Linked DNA regions of Homo sapiens: region 2 is linked to region 1. The links come from fine-mapping of genetic effects on gene expression. A gene starts in region 1. The other region holds a variant in brackets. All regions are shown on one strand. Distances are from middle to middle.

What was found. PIP is the estimated chance that this variant, and not a neighbour inherited with it, causes the effect. A credible set is the group of variants that fine-mapping cannot tell apart.
Region 2: its variant is the best candidate, but not a certain one, in a credible set for the expression of ABCB7 in aorta (GTEx, PIP 0.65).

Annotation. Positions count from the first base shown.
Region 1 is chrX:75,149,915-75,162,454 of GRCh38, forward strand. ABCB7 (ATP binding cassette subfamily B member 7) reads right to left here and starts at 6,369. Exons shown (of 16, transcript NM_001271696.3): 1 at 6,191-6,369. The coding sequence starts at 6,358. It also overlaps a transcript of UPRT not described here. RefSeq lists an enhancer at 6,050-6,479.
Region 2 is chrX:75,366,593-75,378,831 of GRCh38, forward strand. It overlaps ZDHHC15 (zDHHC palmitoyltransferase 15), which reads right to left. Exons shown (of 12, transcript NM_144969.3): 12 at 1,835-6,353. Among named protein-coding and RNA genes, the nearest start is that of UPRT, 99 kb to the left of the region's middle. The variant TA/T (reference allele first, on the strand shown) is at 7,794.

The DNA.
Region 1 (12,540 bases):
GGAACAATATAGGGTGACTGGAGGGACAGGGTATTTGTAGAGAAACAGTTTACAATATGGCTAGCAATCTAGTTAGGTGGAAATTTTTAAGGCTAAGATATAAAGCCCACTGAAGTTTATGCAGGGAAGTGATGGGATAAAAGTCATGCCTTAGGAAGAATAATCTAGATGTGCTGTATAGGATGGATTGAAAGGGCAAGTCCCTGAAAGCAGGGACAAAACCCATGCATAAAGTAATAAGGGTCTAAAACTAGGGCAGAAGTTAAGGGACTGAAAAGGACAGAAGAGGCCATTGCTACTACAAAGAAATGTTCATCTACCTAACCGGATTACTGTGAAGACCAAATGACATTAAATAAAGACTTGAAAAGTATCTTTACTCACTAGTGGCAAATCCTACAAGGGAGTCAAGAGAGCACAGATGAGGACTTCAGGGAGATGGATTTCAGGAAAGGAAGGAGAAAATCAAAACAACAAAAATATCACATTTTGCAGGTAACTATATATACCTATTAACATTACTAAAATCTTAAGTAATTAAAAGACCTAATTTTGGTCAAGACTGAGCACCAAGAAAAAAAATGCTCACAAGTAAAAACAGAATTTAAAATTATCCCAATAATGTAAAAATTATGTACATGAAAGAACAGAGATTCAAAGGAAAAAGGAAAAATTATTTAACATGTGGGATTGTAGATATCTGTCTTGACGTTTTTATTAGATGTGGTTTTGTATAATTAAAATGGGGACAATGTAAAGCATAAGAATCGTATACAGAATGGGCAATTTTATCTCTTATTATATACCTTATTTTACAATATGGGAAAGAACATACTTTTCTTTGAAAAAGCAAAATCTTTAAGATAACACTGACAACAATACAGCAATAAATGATATTAATTTTATAACAATTGTATAACAATAATTAAATGATCAATTATGCATTTATCATTTAATCAAAATTTTGATGTAAGTTTCCACTCTATTTCTACCCCGCTGCCCAGTGACAAGTGCTCTTTATCTTGCCACTGGCTACTCAGGAACACCATTAGAAACCCACCAGCCAGCAATATTGTATTAATCAGGGATTACTGACTGGAAGAGGGGATAGGTTTCTGATTCCCCTGAAATTGCATGCAAAATGAAGCACATACGTATGTATATTTTTCTAGGGAGAAGGTCTATGGCTTTGATCAGATTCTCAAAGGGCCTCGTGTTCTAAAAGAAAGTTTAGAAACATGAAATTTTCTTCCTCTTCCTAATAATCTTAATAACTAGTTAAAACCAATGTGTCAATGACTTAGAGAATGTTATTTATTCAACTATATCTGAAAAAAGAATCCCCTGAATTCCTCTTCTCAAGTCCCAGTGCCACTTTCCATTCCTTACCATATACAGCCCATGTAAGGTATATCTTTATTTACAACTTTTATAGCATTACTGTTATTCTTCACCACCCCTTAGAATCTATTTCTACCATCCCAGATGATTTCGGAACCTAGCTTACTTTTTCCTCCACACTACTTCCATCCTCCCAACACTACCAAATACTAAGCTCATAATTAAATTACATTTTTCTATTCCTACTCTTAGATATACAAATATGACAAGAACAATACAAATTTGTCCCATTAAAAATTCATGTGAACATAAACTTACCCTATGTTGCTCCTGAATACTACACCAGTAGTAAACTAGGATCACAAAGTAGAGGTACTATATAAAAAGGGCTGGTCCTAAAGGATTACAGTAAAGAAACAAGAGAGTTGCAAGAAACCTTAGAGATCTGGTAGTCAAATATTACTAGTTTACAGGATCTGATGTCCAAAAGAACAAGTTATGTGTCCAAGATAATTAACAGTACAAATAGAGCTCAGGCGGTCAAGTGTCCTGGTCCAGTGTTCATCCCACAATACCAAGTTATGCCCTTTGCACACCAGTTATTTCATTATTTTTAACATTTAGAAATAAAAATCTTTTAAGTCATCTGTATTTTCTTTACAGTAAGGCTTACTCCTACCTCAAGACCTCTTAATAGTATTCAATATCATTCCTTCCAAGCTTACTGTGTGAGAACAATGTAGGGGACAATTAAAAGCCGTGTTGAAATCAAGATAGACTGTCACTCACTCATATGAATAATTGGTTTGGTATGTCTTGCTCTTTTCAAAACCAAGCTGGCTGCTTCCTAACAGCTCGTATTTTTCTAATGACAGCAAATTATTGTTTAATAATTTTAAAAGTCTTTATTGGTCTCCTAATAAAAGGACTATGCTTTTAACATTTGTGTCCCCCTAAAATTCCTATATTGAAACTTAATCACCAATGTGATGGTATTAAAAGGTGGAGTCATTGGGAGGTGATTAGGACTTGGAGAGTAGAGCTCTCATAAACAGGATTAGTTCCCTTATAAGAGGGGCCAAAGAGCTGCCTTGTCTCTTCTACCACATGAGGACACAGCTAAAAGGCACCGCCTATGAACCTCAAGACCTCACCAGACACTAAATCTGTCAGCACCTTGAACTGTGAGAAATAAATTGCTCTTGCTTATAAGTCATGTAGTTTATGGTATTTTGTTATACCAGCCCAAACAGACTAAGATAGACTATTAGTCTAAGAAATTATTTCTCATATGCACATTAAATCCCTCTTCCTGCAAATGAAGTCCACATCTTTGTATCATAACCTAATGTTCCAGTTAAGTTTAGGCATCACTGAACTACAAATAACCCCTTCAGGTCCTTTTTTTTTTTTCTTTTTTTTGAGAGGAAGTCTCGCTCTGTCGCCCAGGCTGGAGTACAGTGGCGCGATCTCGGCTCACTGCAACCTCCGCCTCCAGGGTTCAAGCAATTCTCCTGTCTCAGTCTCCTGAGTAGCTGTAGTCACAGGTGCACGTGACCATGCCCAGCTGCTTTTTGTATTTTTAGTATGGACGGGGTTTCACCATATTGGTCAGGCTGGTCTCGAGCTCTTGACCTCAGGTGATCCACCTGCCTTGGCCTCCTAAAGTGTTAGGATTACAGGCATGAGCCACTGGGCCAGGCCGCTTCAGGTACTTTAAATGTCACTGAATCACCTCTCACCCTTTTCAGTTCCATGATCTATAATCCACTTAAAGACACCCTTATTTCTCTTGTAAGTTCTGTTTTTGTTGTTGTTGTTTGTTTGTTTGCTTGTTTTTGAGACGGAGTCTTGCTCTGTCGCCCAGGCTGGAGTGCACTGGCGCGATCTTAGCTCACTGCAAGCTCCGCCTCCCGGGTTCACGCCATTCTCCTGCCTCAGCCTCCCGAATAGCTGGGACTACAGGAGCCCGCCACCATGCCCGGCTAATTTTTTTTGTATTTTTAGTACAGACGAGGTTTCACCATGTTAGCCAGGATGAATAAGTTCTGTTTTCTATTCTTTTAGTATATTTTGGGACGACTGTTGAATAATCACTGTAGTTTCTTCATAGGCATCTTATATTGTTAAATTTAAATATGAACTAGAACCTCTAAAATATAGAATAGGAGGATTATTTCCCTAGTGTTGTTATTATATTCCCACTTCAGTTAATATGAAAGCCAGGAGTAAAGTATTTTAATTTTTATCTACTCTGCTAACTCTTAGCAGCCAATGGTGGAAGAGTAGGAAGGTGGAACTTGCTACTGGGAGAAATTAAAGCTCCCATTCTTGGTCCATGAGGTCAGACCAACAAATGAAAACAAAACAGTACCTATCCAAAAGAACTACCATATTCCACAACCCAGGTCTAGGGCATATACTGGGTGAGAAATACTTACAATGAATTCCAGTAATCACATACATGTGGGACTGTGTGTGTGTGTGTGTGCGTGTGTGTGTGTGTATATATATATATAAAATATATATGTGTGTGTGTATATACACATAAAAGTTCATGAAACAATACTTCACTTAAGATGTAAAAAGCACTGCTATTTTCTTTATATTCTACTGAATTTCATCTAAAAAAGTGCTAATCCAACCCACTAACATTATTTCATAACACTGCTCTAAGGTTCCTTTCAGCTCTAAAATATTATGCTATATACTAATGATCGTCCTAAAAGTATGAATTCAGTAATTATTTTGTAATCTTAATCACAAGTCACAAATTTGCAGGTACCTCAGGTTACCTCAGCTTCTACTTTGAAAACTTTGTAATCATTCCTTTCTCACCCTGTTTTAAAAAAAGGATGGCAAGAGTTCCATGCCTTTAAGAAACAGAAAACAAAGGTAACATCTTTCCCTTGTTTTGCACACTGAGGAAATGGTAACTAAAGGAAATGGTAGGATGTAAAGGACAGAGTGGAAGAAGGAAGTTGTGGAGATAGCGTTCATGGAAAGAGAGAAAGCTAAATTTGTATTGCCATTGCCTCCTCTGAGATTCCTAATAACTTCTCCTTTTCCCTCTTCCCCCTCATTCTTCCAGCTTAAGAAATTTTATCTTAAGATATCTAATTTTATCTAAGATAACATTTACAAATTTTATCTTAACTTCATCTGCCTTATTGGAGAACTACAGAACAAAAACCATTCCCAAGAGATCATGTGTTAGAAACTTTCAACCATAAAATACTTTAAAAACCTTAATGAAATCATCTAGATTCGCTTCGTTAGCCTAATCTGCTATTTCCTATCTTGAATGACTCACTACAGTCTAAACTACGTGCAGTTCTAGAAAAGGTCCATGTTCTCTCTGACTTGTGGGCCTTTGCACATGCGATTCCTTCTTTAACTGGCTAACTTCTAATTTTTCAGCTCTTGCCTTAGATATCAGTTACTTAAGGCAATCTTCACTACCTTACAATTAGACTTAATACCCCTCACATATACTGTCCCATACCTTGTACCTTTCCCATTATTACACAGCTCCACTATATTTTAATTGCCGATTAATTTACATATTTCCCACTAGATTTTAAGCTCTTTAAAGACAGGACTTATATTTTGTTTGCTCCTGTAGAGGTGTTCAATAATTACTGAATGAATTATAAATGTCATTCCATCAGCCTTCCACATGCTTAGTGTCATTCCCTATTCTCCCTGTTCAGAACATTCTCCCCAGTTCTATCACCAGCATGAAATACTCTTTATAACCTGGTCCTTAATTATCACTATTTCCTCTGGATGCCTATAGCCTTTATTGTACATACTATTCATTTGCTAATTAACCCACCACTGTGTTTTTCAGTTATTTTTGTAATGCATAGATCCAATCTCCTTAACTAAACTGTACAATCCTTGAAGGCATAACTGTATGTCTCTCTTAGTACCCTATCATCTAGCACAGGGCTATGTACAAGGTAGACGTTAAATATTTGTAGATGAAGAATCAAAATTTAAGAGGTTGTTTCTCATACAAAACTGACAATATTTTAAAGTGATAGTGATAAATACGTGGTGGCAATTAAACCTCTTGTCAATACACAGAAAATAAAAAGATATACTTTAGTACAGTTAAGTACAAATAATTTTTTAAAAAACCGTTCCTGAGTGAGAGGTAATAATGGACTCAAATTTTAGGAGGCACTACAACCATAGCTACATTCATAAGTTAAGGATAAGTAGCCTATGGCTTCCAAAATGACCTGTGCACAGAGAACATCACTGTATTTTTCAGATCTAGGACAGTCATATTTATACAAGAATTTAGGGCGGTCTATGTTTTGGAAAGATAGTTACGGTTTTGGCCTATCAAGAAGCACGCCTGTCAGCAAGGGAGTTAACTGGCGCCACCTGTTTATAGATAGCTTGCTGTCATTACAGTGCTCTCCGAATTGCTAATTCCAACTGAGTAAAATCTGAACCACAGATAAACTGTCCCAAATTCCATTACTAATTGGGGAAAATAATCCAGTCTTCCTCGTCTTTAGAAAGGCAAGCAGGCTGGGAATGGTGTCTACCCCAACTCTTAATATGAGAGAAAAACTATGACTCCGAGAGCCTCCAGCGCTCCAGGTGTCCTCTGCCCAGAACCTCCTGCCCCGTTTCCCTTTGCTGAACTCAAAGGTTTTCTTCTTCGCCCTTTCCTCAAATTACTGACGTTAATTTCCTTCACTTACTGCTGCTCCCAGTTAGCCATGACTTTCTTCTTGGTGCTCTCTCTGCCCCGAGGTCAGGAGGGCAACCTTTTCCCTACAGGTCCCCTTGCCCTTCACCCTATTCTTCCATGTCAGTGGCATCTCACCTGGTAGGCTCGAGCGGTTCCCAAGGCGCCGAGTTGATGTGGCCTCCACTGCGGACCTGAGCCGCTAACAGAGACTAAAGGCCGGATCAGAATCGCGGAGTGCCGGCGCTTTTCGAAAGCAGCCGCCGCGGCCGCCCAGCGCCAAGAATGCATCGCGAGCAGCGCCATCTTGAGCGAGGAAAGAGGAACCGAGAGAAGAGGATTATGGGACACTGGCGGACTGAATTCGGCTACCTTAATTGTCTCTCCTCTTCTTGTTTTCCCAGGGCCCCAGACCGGAAATGGATTCTGTTTGAAGATTCGGATGCATTCGCACAGCCTCTTTTATTTGTTTTTCCTTAGGGCCGAGCTTTGATTGTTTTCCTTACACAACCGGGAATATTGGAGTAACACTGTATTTTTCTCTTTTCCTGGAGTTGCCAGATGAAATACAGGATGCCTACCTAGTTAAGTTTCAATTTTACATAAACAACGAATCATCTCTTCGTGCGTGTGTCCCAAATATTGTATCTGCTAAATCTGTCAACCCCATCTTGTCTCTCATAATACTCTCTTACCTCCTCCAACTCAATGTCACGCTCCCCTCTCTCCATTTTCCCTATGCATATTCTTATCTTCACTCCCTTCTGAATTAAGGAAAGATTAAACTACAGACGTTAATTTCCCCTGGGAGGAGGCTTCAGCTGTAAGATTTACTGCTTTTCTGTCCTGTAAGGACTTTAACTTTGCTGATTGTTCTCTGTTGCGCAAACCTTGGGGCAGTTTTCCTTTGGTCTGTTGCTCGTGGGACAGTCTCACACACACACACACACACACACACACAGAGAGACTACAGACATCTTTACTAATTTTGTCACTCTTTCTAGCTCTTCGCTTTGGTTTTTGCAGCGTCCCTAATTCTTGAAAAATCGCTTAGGTTGGCTGAAGGGTGGTAAAGTGAAATGTATGGAGAGAAGACCATGTTTAAAGACAGGCTTATATTCTTTTGTCACCACTATTATCAAACAAAATGTCAAAATATGTTTACAGTTATCTAGGAAACTGCATTTCCAGTTGTAAATGTTACCTGAAACCCCGGAGACAATAATGCAGTTGCAATTTTATATTCACTGCTGCATTCTCCAACTTTTCACACAAAAGAGACAAATAATTATGGACTTCTTATGAAGAGGTACTTTGGACTAGTAAGTCTGATAAAGAAAAACAGAAATCTGTAGCCCATGCAGTTAGCTTTTTTGTTCTGGGATTCATTCAAGGGGATGCTTGAGCTAGTTATTTAAAGAAAAATAGAATTCAAGTTGAAGAGGTTGACTGGAATTACACGTAAAGAAGATGACATGTTAAAAGCAAGAAGGCATAAGAAAATATTTTCAGGTTCAGGAGTCTATGGAGTTTGGGAAAGTAGTAGGAGGTTAACCTGAGTGAACAGAGACCTGATGGTAAAGGGCCTTCTATTTCATTCTAAGAAGTTAATACTTTATCCTATAACCAGTGAAGAGTTTTAATCAGGAGAGTAACATGATCAGATTTATATGTCCATTAAGCTACTCTGGCTTAAGTGAGAAGGTTGGATTGGACGGAGTTCATATTGAAGTCATGAAGTTAATGCAATAGTTCAGTCATAAAATAAAGGCCTCAACCTAGCAGTAGCAGTGGCAGTAGATCGATTGCAGGGCAATTAGGAGATGGAATTGGCAAGACTTAGTGACTAATTGGATGTTTCTAGCTTATTATTGTATTGTTGACAGTAGATCAGTAATGGCTTCATATTAATGACTATATTGTCATCAACAAATATTTATTCAGCATCTATTCTGTGTTAGACAGCTACAGTATACATTAGAGAAACTCTAGACTCTACTAATGATTTCTCTTAGGGCTGAATATTGCCACTGAATCTTACCACCCAGTTGTAAAGTCTTTGAATGGAGCCAAATTATTTTTTTCCAAAAGTAGTGCTCATTGTAAGCCAACTGTTTTGATCAAAAAGTGTGAATAACATTGAAATACCCAAGTTGTTACTCTATGATGAGCTAAAGTGAGGCAAATATTTATTTGCCAAATAAGCCGAAGAAAATTTCCAGGGCACCCAGAAATAGAACGTGAGGCATAATAAGAGTTGCACACTGCTGGGGAAGAGCAGCAACAAAAAGGCCAACTCAGCCTGTAATAACTTGACACATAACTGTCTGACATAAATTAAAGAGACAGAGGTATACACAATAAAAGCTGCTATAAATAGCTGCTACAACCACAGATCACATGATAGCACTTTATGTATGCAATAATTAAATGTGTATAGTATTTTGTAACTTACAATCCGCTTTGTCATACCTTATTTCATTTAGTCCTCACATCGACCATGGAAGATAGGTATTATTTATTAATATGCCCATATTTATGAGGAAACTGAGGCTAAGAAAAGTTGTGACTAGGTCAGAGGCCACAGAGCTAATGGGATGGAGACCAAACCTAGGTTTTATGACTCCAAACATAGTGCTCTTTTCACTTAATAACACCTGAAATGTGGAAGAAACACTTGAGCAATTTAAGAAGGCCACAGTGGTCTTCTGTTTCTAAAAAATACCAGAACTTATTCTCACCTCAGGACCTTTCCACTTGCTTTCCCCTCTACCAGGAATATCTTTCCTGTAGATTTTTAAATGACTTTTTCTTATCTTTCAGGTCTCAAAACAAATGTCACCTGCTTAGAGAAGCTTTCCAAGAGAACCTTATCTGAAGAGGCCACCCCCTGTCCCCACCACTCTGTATCACCATTGCCTTGTGTTATTTCCCTTAAAATCTTGCTATTCCAATGTGATCCATGGACCACTAGCATTGGCATTACTTGAGAGGTTGTTAGAACTGCAGAATCTTTTTTAGCTATTTTGAACTATACAGTAAGTTGTTGTTAACTATAGTCACCTGCCCTACTGTACTATAGAACACTAGATATTACTCCTTCTAACTACATTTTTGTACCCATTGACCAACCTCTTTTCATTGTCCCCTCCCTTCTGCTCTTCTTACCTTCTGATAACCACTATTCTACCCTCTACCTTCATGAGATATACTTTTTTAGCTCCCACATATGAGTGAGAACATGTGGTATTTGTCTTTTTGTACCTGGCTTATTTCACTTAGCATGATGACCTTCAGTTCCATCAATGTTGCTGCAAATGACAGGATTTCATTGTTTTATGGCTGAACAATATTTTATTGTGTATGTACACCACATTTGGAAGAAAGAGAATGTTCCCAACATAAAGAAAAGCTAAATGTTTCTTTATTTGATTATTACCTTGTTGTATATATTGTTTATGATATCATATGCATCATGTATCAAAATATCACATGTACTTCAACAATATGTACAGCTATTACATAGCAATAAAAAAAGAAATGCAGAATCTCAAGCCCGATGCCAGACTTAAATATTCAAAATCCGAATTTTAATTAGAATGCCTCAGGTTGTTCATATGCACATTCAAGTCTGAGAGGCACTTTTAGAGCACGTATCACTTTCTGAAACTAACTTATTTTCCATGTACTTTTAACATTTGGAAATATTGAATCATAACTGAAAATTACAAAGAAAAACGTAATCACCATGTACCTACAACCCAGCTTAGTCATAGCTTAAGATTTTATGATACTTGCCTTAAATTTTTTTTTTTTTTTTTTTTTTTTGAGATGGAGTCTCACTCAGTTGCTCAGGCTGGAGTGCAGTGGCACAATCTCAGCTCACTGCAACTTTCGCCTCCCGGGTTCAAGCGATTCTCCTGCCTCAGCCTCCTGAGTAGCTGGGACTACAGGTGCATGCCACCACGCCCGGCTAATTTTTTGTATTTTTAGTAGAGACGGGGTTTCACCGAGGATTGTCTTGATCTCCTGACCTCGTGATCCACCTGCCTCGGCCTCCCAAAGTGCTGGGATTACAGGCGTGAACCTCTATGCCCAGCCTGCCTTAGATCTTAAAAATAATGACTTAGTTGAAGATCCCGGCATTGCCCTTCTCTAATCCTAGTCTCTTTATCCTTGTGGATTTATTTCTGTTTTATTCTTTTATGTTATTTTGGTGGAGTCTGTAAGGAAGAGGCGATAAATAGGTTTGATTTTCCTCTTCGTTTTCTAACCTCTAGACATTTCCTTTGTTTGCTTTCAAGCTCAACTATGCATTTTTTAAAAACTTTGGGGCTTTTTGTTGCTACTTTTAACCAACTTGTCTGTGTTTGGAGTCTGTAGGGTAGTGTCTCTTACATGTTGTCAGTTAGCCCTCTTGTCTCTATTGTATACCTCTTAACCTGGTTTACACTTTAAAAAATGCAGCCCAAAATTACCCTTCCCCCAAAATAAGGTGCATTGCATAAAGATGTTTATATCAGTGTTATTAATAATAGCAACTTTTTCTGTCGTTTTACTTTATTTGTTTATTTATTTTTTAGAGACAGAGTCTCGCTCTTGTCACTCAGGCTGGAGTGCAGTGTTGCAATCACAGCTTACTGCAGCCTCAAGCTCCTGGACAAGGGATCCTCCCGCTTCAGCCTCCCAAGTAGCTGGGACTAAGGTGTGTACGACAGTGCCTGACATATATTTAAAAAATTTTTTAAAGATGGGGTTCGCTATGTTGCCCAGGCTGGTCTCAAACTCCAAGCATCAAGTGATCCTCTTGCCTCAGCTTCCCCAATGGCTGGGATTTACAGGCATGAGCCACCATGACCAGTGCAACTTTTGAAAATAATTCCAAATATTCCAAAAGCAGTTCAACGAAATACCTCAACAGCTATTATTTGAAAAGTATATGTATGTACTTGCGTTGATACTGTATATGGGAAAGTATATATGAAATAATGTTGAATAAAGAAGAAACAAACATATATATACATTTATATGTATGAATATATAAACACATACACACATGTTTATTACTATTGAGATTTTAGGAGAACATTGCACAAAATAAGTAGTTGTTTTAAAGTTATGTTTATCACTTTTTTTCCCTTTTTTGAAGGGAATATTTATTGGGCATTTATTCTGTTTTAAGCACTGCACTGCACTGCACTGGGTGCTTTAAGTTGTATCATCGAATTTAATCCACTCAACGCACATAAAGAGTGGTTTCTGTTATAATCTCCACCTTACAAATGAGGAAAAGAAAGCTCTGGGCTTGCCCAAGTAGTTTGGAAGTGGTAGAGATGATATCCAAATCCAGAAGGTCTGATTCCAGAGCCCATGCTCCTTGTCACCATGCCATAGAGGGTTTTAATAATAGTTGTTTGTATAAAAATTAAATTTTAAAAATGAATGCAAAGTTTTAGTTATTTTTTAACTTAATAAAAATTTAGAGATTTTGGTAAACTTTAATGCTTAACCTCCAGGGGAAAAAAAATCTTTTACAAATTTGTAAATGAGCTGGTTTCTTTGCATATCATGCAAAATAATATCTTAATCCTCATATATAATAATAACAGCTATTAATTATCGAGTGCTTCATCTGTAACAGGGAGTAGCTACTGCTTTACATACATGATCATATAATCCTCTCCAATATTGTATGAGGTAGCTATTATTATAATTACCATTTTTTTCTGCTGATGTAACCTGAGACTTACAGACATTAAAGAACTTTCCCAAGATTGCTTACCTAGTAAACAGCGGAGTCAAAACTCAAACCTAAACCTGACACTAAAGTCTATGCTGCCAACCTAAACTATGCTGCCTTTTCTTGTATGTGTCAATACCACCTGTAGGATTTAGGGGGCATGCCAAATCTGTTTTCACTGTAATATTGTGGGCAATCCTATGTATTATAAAACAGTGACCCAGCTTTATCTCGACAAAAATAATCTTGTGGGAATTTCGTAGGACTGTGGGACCCCATGTAGATGGCACAATAAGAATCATCTCCTTTTGAACACTATGCATTGGGTCCATCCCAAGAGTCATCATGTGTATCCCTTAGAAATATTTCTAGGTATACCCTAATTTCCTTCTTTCTTTTCTTTTTTTTTTTTTTTTGTATTTTTAGTAGAGACGGGGGTCTTACCATGTTGGTCAGGCTGGTCTCGAACTCCTGACCTCAGGTGATCCACCCGCCTCAGCCTCCCAAAGTGCTGAGATTACAGGCGTGAGCCACCACGCCCAGCAGGTATACCCTAATTTCAAGTCTCTTGAAGATCTAACTTGCTTGCTGTTTTAAAGCTCCATGGTTTTACTCTGGTATGAAGGATCCAGTGAACTGTGAAAACTTGTCTTTTTATCTGTGTGGCATGTAGACCCATGATAAAGCTATAGATTAATAACTCAGTATGATGTTTTTAAGCTCTCAGAACTCACTTCAAAGTTTTCAT
Region 2 (12,239 bases), 220 kb after region 1:
CCCTCTACAAACCTTAGGATTAAATGTTCTCTTATAAAAAGGAGGGGAAAGATATGTCAGAGGCATTGGAATCAGAGTGACTCCATCTTGAATATGGGCTGGGTAAAATGAGTCTGAGACCTACTGTGCTGCATTCCCAGGTGGTTAGGAATTCTAAGTCACAGGATGAGTAGGAGGTCAGCACAAGATATAGGTCACAAAGACCTTGCTGATAAAATAGCATGTGGTAAGGAAGCCAGGCAAATCCCACCGAAACCAAGATGGTAATGGAAATGACCTGATTTTCCTCACTGCTCACTATATGCTAGTTATAATGCCTTAGCACTCTAAAAGACACTCTCACCAGCACCATTACAGTTTACAAATGCCATGGCAATGTCAGGAAGTTGCACTATATGGCCTAAAAATGGGAGGAATCCTCAGTTCCTGGAATTGCCCACCCCTTTTTGGAGAACGCATGGATAATCCACCCCTCGTTTAGCATATAATCAGGAAATGACCATAAAAGTGGCCAGCCAGCAGCCCTCTGGGCTCCTCTGCATATGGAGGAGTCATTCTTTTGTTTCTTTACTTCTCTAATAAACTTGCTTTCATTTTATGGATTCACCTCAAATTCTTTCTTGCATGAGATCCAAAACCCTCTTTTGGGGTCTGGGTCCAGACCCCTTTCCAGTAACACTTTGTTTGTAATATGAGCTCTTTGTAACTGATTCACTAGAATAAATGACATGGGATTTTCTACAGAGATATTTGAGGTCTTTACCTAGGACAAAGTAAGTACTTTTTTTAAAAAAAATAAGCTTGGCTGGAATAAAAGATTTTTTTCTGGTTTTGTGTTAAGCCTGACATCTATGGGTTGGGCTTCTTTTAAGTGATTCAAGTTCTCCATTATTAATTGGTCAGAAAGTCAGCAATGACTGTTCCAAACTTCAGTTTTCAATGCTCTGCATTTTGAATGACTTCTGCCTTCCTGGTTGGCTAATTGGGGGCTTTCTCCATTCTGTCTGAAAAAGGACTTTTCCTGCAAATGGTGCATCAATTGAGGGAAACCTTATCTGGGGCTTACCTTAATGAGGGTCTCCTCAAATATTTCTCTGAGGGTAATGTATGAGTTAGGAGTAAGTGGGCTACTGTGTTTCTTTTTTAGTGTGTTTTGTTTATACTTATTTTAACTTTTAAATTCAGAGGTACATGTGTAGGTTTGTTATATAGGTAAACTTGTGTCATGGGAGTTCGTTGTACAGATTATTTCATCACCCAGGTATTAAGCCTAGTACCCATTAGTTATTTTTTCTGGTTCTCTCCCTCCTCCCACCCTTCACCCTCTGATAGGTCCCAGTGTCTGTTGTTCCCCTCTATGTATCTTTTTTCAGGTGACATGCATCTGGAGAATAGTACACATAGCCTTCAGTGTAAGAAAAAGCAAACCAGAGTTCACTTCACCCTTAGGCACATAAGAAAAGTTCTTTCTTTTTCCTTTCATCACAATGGCAGAGTGAAAGGCAAAAGATGTGTGAGGCTGAGTAGAGACTGAATGTGATTAAGTGTCACTAGACTGGTCAGCTTTCTATCTAAAAGCCATTGCAGCTAATTTCCCAATTCATATTCATGTAGGAACATAAGACAGAAATACCGAACACATGGAAGGGGCTGTTCAGAAGGTGAGATGTTACAGAGAAGTCTACATACCACGCATACCAATCAACCTGAGTGAACAAACATCACTATACCCCTATGAAATTAGATGTATAGAAACTTCCTTAGAGTAGTCTGAAACTTTAGGGTTTGTCAACATTGTTTAACAAAGCCACAATTTAGGAAAAAAAACCAACAATTATATGCATATACTTTTAATGAAGGATATAGGAAGATAAAGCTGGCCAGCATTTGTCAATATTTCTGCACCAAGACACATGGTTTTAAGAATACTATATACAATCATTTTGAGCAGATTGGTGGGAAAAATAATTGTAGCAGATTGGCAACCTATGCTTAACTTCTGAGGTCTCCTTTTCTGGCACTCTAATATAGTTCATATATTACCAAGACCCACTGCCAGCTTTCCTTTTATGTTCCTTCACTGATTAAGCCAGCAGAGTGAAAGTAATTATTCCTTGAATGCATCTTATCTAATTTTTTTTTCCTTTAATGCCATTCCCTACTAACAATCTATTTCCTGGTATATTGAATTCATTGTTGGTTTTAACTCATTCTGCTGATGGCTGTGTACCATCCTGCTACAAAGAACACATTTAATGGTTTTGAACACTGTGCAGGACACAGACCTAACCCTTTTAGGGAAGTAAACAGTCATGGGTTGCATGCTACTAGGAGCCACCCATTCATTATTATATAATACCCGCATGCAAAAGGCTACAATTTAATATGGTACATTACAGCTATGGTTAAAGAAATGCAGATGTACCATACCTCATCAACCAATTCCTAACGAGATGGAACTCATTAATTTTCTAAGAATATGGATCTTGTCCAAGGGCCTGACAATCTCATTAGATGCCCCCTGTGCTTCTCCATAGAACGTCTTCTGTACCGAATCTCTTAGCTACTCTGAGAGCAGAGATTCTGGAATGTATAAATCTAATGTTCTTCACATGCTGTGTTTCTTAGACTCTTTTTCTAAAAGGAGAAAACAGATAATCATTCTTTTAAATTAAAGTATTTGCTCCTGCTGAAGAGGCAGCCTGCTTTGGAGAAAATGTGTATGTGTGTGTGTGTGTGTGTGTGTGTGTGTGTACATGTGCATACATGTATGTAGATATGTGTGATGAGAGGTGAAAAGAATAGGCTTTCAATGACTGTTACATTCCTATGAATTTGGGCCCTGTTAAATTAATTTTAGGTTCATGTTACAATAATGTATAATATTCAGTATTCTTAAAACTTACTTGCTAGGATTGTGCTTAAATCTCCATTAACCTCAATGTCTATACTTTGTGCAATTTGGTATAAACATGGAGTGCATTCTTTACCTTGGCAATGTCTGCCCTGAGATTGGGCTCTATGGTGCCACAGGAGGTAATGGCACTGGTTGATGCCACATAGTGTGAAAAATATGTGTCACATGGGGCTAGTAGGGGAAAGAGGCACATATTGCATTCTTATCACATAGAAAGTAAGAGTTGTACAAATTGCATACTTTTCAGATTTTTGACAAAATGTGACTCTTTCAGAATGTGATCCTGTTGTAATTACTCTCAAAATTCTAACTGCTCCATGATAATTCCAGTCCTGGGAAGCCAAGTTACTTTAACAATGTACTGAACATGGTAACTGTGAGCCCTGCATAAGACAGCTGTGTTCCATTGGGGACCACTTAATCTCTTTTCCCCTTAATTTTTCCAGCTGTACCATGGGGAACAATTTTTTTATTCTGTCTCTTTCTGAGGACGCTGTTGGAGTGAATGGAAGAACATTAACAAAGTGCTCTAAGTCCTGCAAGAACAAATCAGCAATGAGAGCATGGACAAAAGAATGGAGTACATTATTTTGCTTAGAAATACTGTATGGTTAAGCTTTTCATTCCAGTCCTATAATTAAAGACATATAAGAGCACTAGAAAGTGACATAGCACCCTTCAGCAGTAGGATCCTAACAATGAGTATCTTCATTTTGCAAACGGAGAAAATGAGTATCAACAATTAGGGAATGAGATTCCACAGAGGTTATTGGACAGGGATCCAAAGAAAAGCAAGCAAAGAAGCCAGATCAGGGTGTGCTAATTATTAAATAAAGTTCTGTATTCTTGATTAATAATCAACCAGTTGGGTACCTATGTACATTAGTCAATACTCAAATGATCCATGGATAGGGATATTATCAGAGTCTATAAACCAATGAGACCAAAATGCTAAGATAGGAATAGGTTTTCTTTTTATCTCTGAGCCCCTGGTAAAACCCTGATTTATTTGGCTTTTTTTTTTTTTTTTTTTTTTTTTGAGACAGAGTTTCACTCTTATTGCCCAGGCCGGAGTGCAATGGCACGATCTCAGCTCACCACAACCTCTACCTCCCAGGTTCAAGCGATTCTCCTGCCTCAGCCTCCTGAGTAGCTGGGATTACAGTCATGCACCAACACTCCTGGCTAATTTTTGTATTTTTAGTAGAGACAGGGTTTCTCCATGTTGGTCAGGCTGGTCTTGAACTCCCGACCTCAGGTGGTCCGGCCGCCTTGGGCTCCCAAAATGTTGGGATTACAGGTGTGAGCCACTGCGCCCAGCCTTATTTGGCCTTTTAAAGACAGTGTAAATCTGTAAGACATTAAACAATCAGCTTTGCATTACATCTTTCCTGAGCTTTACCTCTCCGGAACTTCCTTATAGTTAACTGACACTATATTTTGTGACTTGACTTCTGTGGGAGCTGAGTGCTGATACACCCTATGCATCAAAGAAGTTCTTGATGTTTTTCTGACTTTGAATCACAGTTAACAGCTGCTCTGCCTGAATGCTTGGCAGAAGATGATTGATGGGAAAGAGGAAGATTACTTTGAGGCCTACTTGCTGTGTAGTAAGTAAAGGCCATACATGTAGAAAAAGGTGCATATCTATATGAATAGAAGACAAGGCTTGTCTGTCATAAAACCATGGGAATGGCCAAATAAGGTTTCAGGAAAAACCGAAATGAGAGTATTTTGAGAAAGAGTGTAAGGGGAAATTTTTTTCCATCTGAATATATAAGAAGATTTCATCTTGAAACCCAGTGTGTGCATAGTCATCTAGGCTGCTTTTTAGCTTCTGAGTTTGAGAAAGTCACTAGCCCTAATAAGTGTAGTCATGTCTAGTATTCTCTCAAATGTAATGCTGACCACAATCCATTTAATTTATGCCAAAAGTCTCACCTTGGTCAAAATTACCTAGGGATCCAGATGAACAGGTTTTGTTGTTGCTTTAAGTAGCTGGATTGTTCACTTTCTCAGCTCCACTGGAACCCCAACACTAAATTGTGGCAGGCAACTCTTTTTTACTCAAACATATTTCAGGGAAGATAAATTAGTAAGCCAAACCATCCCTCTAGAAGCTCAATTCCTTGATACCTGTAAGATGCTTCTAAATTCCACTGATCTCTAAAAGAGTTGGAGCTTTTATTGTCAGCAGCTGGGCACTAGACTGCTGGATGAAAAAATGAAAGATATCAATACTCTTAAGATATTATTATTGTAAAGAATCAGTACTAGTATTCTCACTCATTGATTCAGGCACTAGGACTAAAAGAAAGGCTGATTATAAATAAATGGGGAAATTGATGCAAACTGTATTAATGGCTTAGCTACTACTGAAGCTAAAAAAAGAAGAAAGAACTGGCATATTACTATTTGGTTATCACTGTCTGTACAATAGCCCCTGCTATGAAAACACAGCTCTTTAGTGCTAATCCTCAGGCTAATGTCAGCTGTGAAACTTTACCCTTATGAAAGGCAGTGAAATTAAACCTGAAAATCACTCTGAAAACCCTTAACAAAACCTATGGGCCATAACTTAGGCTTATAGATTTTCTTTCATCATAAAATAACTCATAAAGGCTAAAATAAAACTAGGAAGCAGATAAATGAATAAAAGTAATTGGAGAATTTTACTGCACCCTGACAAAAAAGTCTTTAAAAAACACTGGTTATTATGTTCAATAAAGTTTATGTCCTGAATTTGATCTTCTTGAGTAGCTGTGGTGCTTTCAGGAACATTTGTGACAGAACAGGTTTTACATTGTTGTTCAAATTCCAATTTGAGGACCTTGGTCACAGTGTACTGATTCACCCTCCCAAATTTTAGATACTTGATATAGCGATGATTCAAAGTCTAGCAAATATTTAAGTTGCTATTTAGAGGAAAAGCATAATTAAACAAAGGCTTCAGGTTTTTAGCCCTGATTTTCACACTATAGCAGAATTTTGTATAGATATGCTGTACGTGTTCACAAATGCACACGCACACAAGCAGCAAATGTAGTTTGATTCCCTTCAACACCAAAAAGGCCCTATATATGTGATTAATAATCTTTGTGGGGGAATTAAAGACTCTAAGGAAATTTTCTGAATTTCCTTTTACCTGATAAGATGAATGAAAAGATATATTTTACATTTAGGCTTTCATGGATTGGGGGAGGGGAAATGAAGAAACAAAAAAAATTGGCTTGAATTAACTGCTACCAAATTCCAAATTGGATTTCAGTCAGTAAATTAAATAACATAAAGTCCAGAAACATTTACACAGCAAGTATTTGATGGAATTCTTTCAAATTTTGAAGCTTTCAATCCAACACGGTGACTTATTTTGAAGATTACAATGATTTCCAACATTGAACTCTGTAAGCCTCATGGGAGGCAGAGATGGTGAGTCCTGGGAATGAAGAGAAGAAATTCACAGATGAGCTGAACAACTGTAAATATTCATGTGGTAACACCCACTTGACAATAATATGCAACCATTAAAATTACATTTATGAAGAGTATAGATCAGCACTGAAAAATGTTAAGTGAAAAAGGCAGGATATAAAATTATATATACAATGCTATATTTTTGACCCCCAAAATTACATTTGGAATAAGAGACTGAGGAAATACACTGAACTATTGAAAGTGGTGGATTCATGGGTAATTTGTTTTCATTTCTCTACCTTCTACTTGCATTTTCCACATTTTCTTTAGTAAATATATAATTTGATACTTCAAAAATACTATTTTTGAAATCCACATGGAAATAACAAGAGCTTTGAAATTGGGCAATTATGAAGCTGAATTCTAGCTTTGCCTCTTATCTCCATAACTCTAGAAAAATAATGTCAATGGATCCTAGTTTACTCATCTGTAAAACTGGTATAATATAATCTTCCTGAAACAATATCTGGCATATAGTAGGCCCTCAAGTAGCTATTTGTTTAAGCTTTCCGGAAAATGATTTGGCCTTATCCATTGACCCTTTAAAAAATTCATACCAGTAATTTTGCTTCCAGGATTCTATCCTATGGAAATGATTATAAATGAGGAGAAAGATTTATGTTTAGTGATATTATTCACAACATTATGATGATGGAAAATTGGATAACATATCTTATTAAATTTATTTTTATTTTTAATTTTTATGGGTACATAGTAGGTATATATATATTTATGTATTACATGAGATATTTTGATACATGCATGCAATGCATAATCATCACATTTTGGTAAATGAGGTATCCATCACCTCAAGCATTTATCCTTTGTGTTACCAACAATCCAGTTATACTTTTATAGTTATTTTAAAATGTACAATTAAATTATTTTTGACTATAGTTACCCTGTTGCCCTAGCAAATACTAGGTCTTATTCATTCTTTCTGTTTTTTTTTTTTTTTTTTTTTTGTAGCCATTAACAATCCCCAATTCCCCTCCAGCACTCACCCCTCCACTACCCTTCCCAGCCTCTGGTAATCATCATTCTACTCTCTAACTCCATGAGTTCAATTGTTTTAATTTTTAGCTTCCACAGATAAGTGGACATAGATGAAGCTGGAAACCATCATTCTCAGCAAACTAACACAGGAACAGAAAACCAAACACCACATGTTCTCACTCATAAGTGGGAGTTGAACAATGAGAACACATGGACACAGGGAGGGGAACATCACACACCGGGGCCTGTCGGGGGCTGGAGGGCTAGGTTTGGGATAGCATTAGGAGAAATACCTAATGTAGATATACCACGGGTTGATGGGTGCAGCAAACCACCATGGCACATGTATACCTATGTATCAAACCTGCACGTTCTGCACATGTGTCCCAGAAGTTAAAGTATAATT[TA/T]AAAAAAAGGGAACCTCCTTAATCTGATAAAGCTATCTAGAAAGAATGAGAGAGTGAGCATCTACCACACACAGGGACAGGATAGAAAAATGGTTCATTAAAAAAAAAATTCTATGCCTACCATATGACTTAGCCATCCTACTCCTTGGTACTTACCCAAGCACAGGTTCACACAAAGTCTTGGTCACAAATGTTTATAGCAGCTTTATGTGTATGAGCAAAAAACTAGAAACACTTCTGATATCCATTAATAGATGGAAAAGTAAATTTTAGTGTGTGTGTGTGTGTGTGTGTGTGTGTGTATATATATATAATATATGTATATATCCAGTGGAATACTACTCATCAATAAAAAGAAATCAATTATCCTTACACACAGCAACAAAGGTGAATCTCAATTATGTTGAGTGGAAGAAGCCAGACAAAACAAAAAAATACATTTGTACAGATCTACTTGTTTAAAATTCTAGAAAATGAAAACTGATAGTAACGAAATAAATCAGTGTTTGCCTGGTGATGGCGCAGGGGTTATTTATAAAAGTGCAGAAGAAAACCTTTGGGAGAGATGGATATATTCATTATTTTGATTGCAGCGATGGTTTCACAGATGTAAACGTATTTCAAAACTCACCAGATTGTATATTATAAAAGTATATAGTTTTTTTGTAGTATAAAGGCACAAAAATGCAGAATAAAATTAAAGTGCTAGTTTCTTTGAATTAAAAAAGTATGAGATTTTAATGTTTTTATACGTGTTTCCAAGTTGCACTCAAAAAATGATCTATGAATTTAAACTCACATCAGCATTGTATAAGAACATCTGTTTCAGCATGTCCTTGCCTACAATAGGTACTGTAATTTGTAAAAATTGGCTGACTTAATAGATAAAAATTAGTATTTTAGGTTATTTTAATTTGCATTTCTTTACAGTGAAGTTGAACAAGTTTAATGTTTATTTTTCATTTTAATTTCTATTTTGTTGATTGTTTGCATCCTTTGCCCATTTACTTTTTACAAAATTTGAAAATAATTTCATCTTTTATTTTAGATTCGGGGTACATGTGCAGGTTCGTTAGGTGGTATATTGTGTGATGCTGAGGTTTGGGGTATAGATCCCATCACCTAGGTAGTGAGCATAGTACCCAATAGGTAGTTTTTCAACCCACCCCCTTCTGTCCTTCCCCAACTAGTAGTCCACAGTGTCTATTGTTGCCATCTTTGTTTCCATGGGTACTCAATGTTTAGCTCCCATTTATGAATGAGAACATGCATTATTTGGTTTCCTGTTTCTGTGTTAATTTTCTTAGGATTATGGCCTCCAGCTGCATCCATGTTGCAGAAAAGGATAAGATTTCATTATTTTTTATGGCTGTGTAGTATCCATCATATACATGTACCACATTTTCTTTGTCTAGTCCTCTGTTGATGGACACCTAGGTTGATTGCATGTCTTTGCTGCTGTGAATAGTGCTGTGATGAACATATATGTACATAAGTCTTTTTGTTAGAAGGATTTATTTTCCTTGGGTATATATACCCAGTAATGGGGTTGCTGGGTGGCATGGCAGTTCTAAGTGTTTTTGAGAAATCTTGAAACTGCTTTCCACGGTGGATGGACTAATTTACATTCCCATCAACAGTGTATAAGCATACCCTTTTCTCTGGAGCTTCACTAGCATCTGTTATTTTTTGACTTTTTAATAATAGCCATTCTGACTGGTGTGAGATAGTACCTCATTGCGGTTTGGATTTGCATTTCTCTGATGATTAGTGATGATGAGCATTTTTTTTCATATGTTTGTTGGCTGCTTGTATGTCTTCATTTGAGAAACGTCTGTTCATCATGTCCTTTGCCCATTTTTAATGGGGTTGTTTTTTTTTTTTTGCTTGTTAAGTTCCCTATAGATTCTGGATATTAAACTTTTGTCAGATGCATTGTTTGCAAATATTTTCTTCCATTCTGTAGATTGTTTTTGCTACTGATAATTTCTTTTGCTGTGCAGAAGCTCTTTAGTTTAATTAGATCCCACTTGTCAATTTTTGTTTCTGTTGCAATTGCTTTTGGGGACTTGGCCAAAAATTCTTTGCCAAGGCCAATGTTGAGAAGGGTATTTCCTAGGGTTGCTTCTAGGATTTTTATAGTTTGAAGTCTTACATTTAAGTCTTTAATCCATCTTGAGTTAATGTTTGCATATGGAGAAAAGTAAGGGTCCAGTTTCAGTCTTCTGCATATGGCTAGCCAGTTATCCCAGCACCATTAATTGAATAGAGAGTTCTTTCCTCATTGCTTTCTTTTGTTGCTTTGCCCATTTTCTAACTGTTGTGTTTTTCTTTTGTTTACTGATTTGCAAGAGCTTTGTAAATTAAGCATATTAAATTTTGTGTGTTGTATAGTTTGCAAATATTTTTCAAGTTTGTCTTTTCATTTTGAAGAAAATATAATCTAGAATAAGTACATTTTTGGGGTAAAAATTATGGCAATAATTTTTTATATACAAAATTTAGAGGCAAAATGAAAAAATTAGCATTGATTCTACATTTTAAACACAAGGGATTCATGTTTTCTTTCATCCTTTTTTATTTAAAAAACTTCAAAAGAAAATGAAGGGAAATATATATTAAATATCTAATTACTTGGACATATATAATGTATTAATGCATTCTTCTACTGATAGACATTCAGGTTGTTTTCAGTTTGGAGCTTTTTACAAATATCACTGTAGTAATTATCTACATACAGTTTAAACAATTCTTCATATCTTAATAAGTTTTAAAAGGTTTCTCCCACTCTTCCCTCCTGTGTTCCCAAGTACTTTTCTATTATTATCAGAATATGAGGCCCGGCACGGTGGCTAATCCCAACACTTTGGGAGGCCGAGGTGGGCAGATCACTTGAGGTCAGGAGTTAGACACCAGCCTGGCCAACAGGGAGAAACCCCATCTCTACCAAAAATACAAAAAGCAGCCGGGCGTGGTGGCACACACCTGTAATCCCAGCTACTTGGGTTCTGAGGCAGAAGAATCACTTGAACCTGGGAGGTGGAGGTTGCAGTGAGCCGAGATCACTCCACTGCACTCCAACCTGGGCAACAGAGTGAGACTCCATCTCAAAAAAAAAATATATATATATGTATATATGAGTTTGTGATTTCCACAAAATGAATCACTTTATTAATATATTTGGACAGAGTGCCCTGTAAAAGGCATAAGGCATTGCTTGAAGGCAATTTTGCTTATCTAGGGAAGTATATAAAAAATGCATTTCAAAGTTCCTTAGCATATTAATGGTCCTGATAAGTATTGCACGAAATACTAGGTTCCATGATAGGCACAAAAAAGAAAGGATCCAACAGTTAAATAAAATTTAAGGGACCACTACAACCTCCTTTTGGTGAGCCACAAAACTCAATAGTGTAGTAAAACCCCTGAGAATTCCTACACTAAAGCCAACTTTCTAATTTTGCTTATATAGGGTTTTATAAATTTATTTACCAGATAATTTTTCTTCCCTTTAACATCTGTTACCATGCCAAAGTAGTAGTGTTTCCCCTAGGAAAATACTAAAATAAAATAGACAGATTAGCACCACAGATAACCCAAATCTAGATATTACTATCATATAAGTTGTCTTACCTAAACATCAAACATTTCATCAGGGCTTTGGATAAGGAAACAGACTTGGTTCTCTCCTTTTTTAATCTTTGATAATAAATAAAGACACATCACAAATAACTCAGATTTTGAAATGTAGTGCCATGGTGGAAATAGCATGCTTTGAGGTCAGATAGACCTGAGTTACAACCCTAGGTTGGCCACTTACTACATATGCAGACTTGGATAAGTGATTTAACCTCTCTGCATATCAGTTTTCTCATAAGTAAAATGGGAATAGTAACATTCATCTTACAGTTGATGTGAGGATTAAATAAGATCATATATATCAAGTACACACCAAAGTGGCTGGCATATACAAAGTTTTATACAATATGTACACTTGTACACAGCAGAATTTCTGTAAGGGAAAGAACTGAAGACCTGGGAACCCACGAACAGATTGTAAGCTTCTGAATAATTGCTAGCTTTTTTCATGAGAATAGGATTAGAAGTTTCATCCGATCAGAGCTATAAGCTCTATGGTATTTCTATTACTAACATTCTTTTAATATTTAATTACACTGGGTTTATACCTGTGAGTGTTGCAAAAAGAAGGTCGTCGAGCTTTTCACCAGGCCAAAGAGAATCCCATGTGTAAAGTTGTCTGCCACTACTTAACAAACTCATAGCATTTTAGGAGGGTTACAGTGTAGGAAGGATGCTTTTTTGCCCTTAGTGGGGAAGACTAGGTTATTAACTGACATAATGGAGTCAGGCAAAAGAAAGCTATTTGTAATCTGTACCATTTCAGAGACCTGGAATGAAACAGGAGGAGGCTTATAATTCACAGT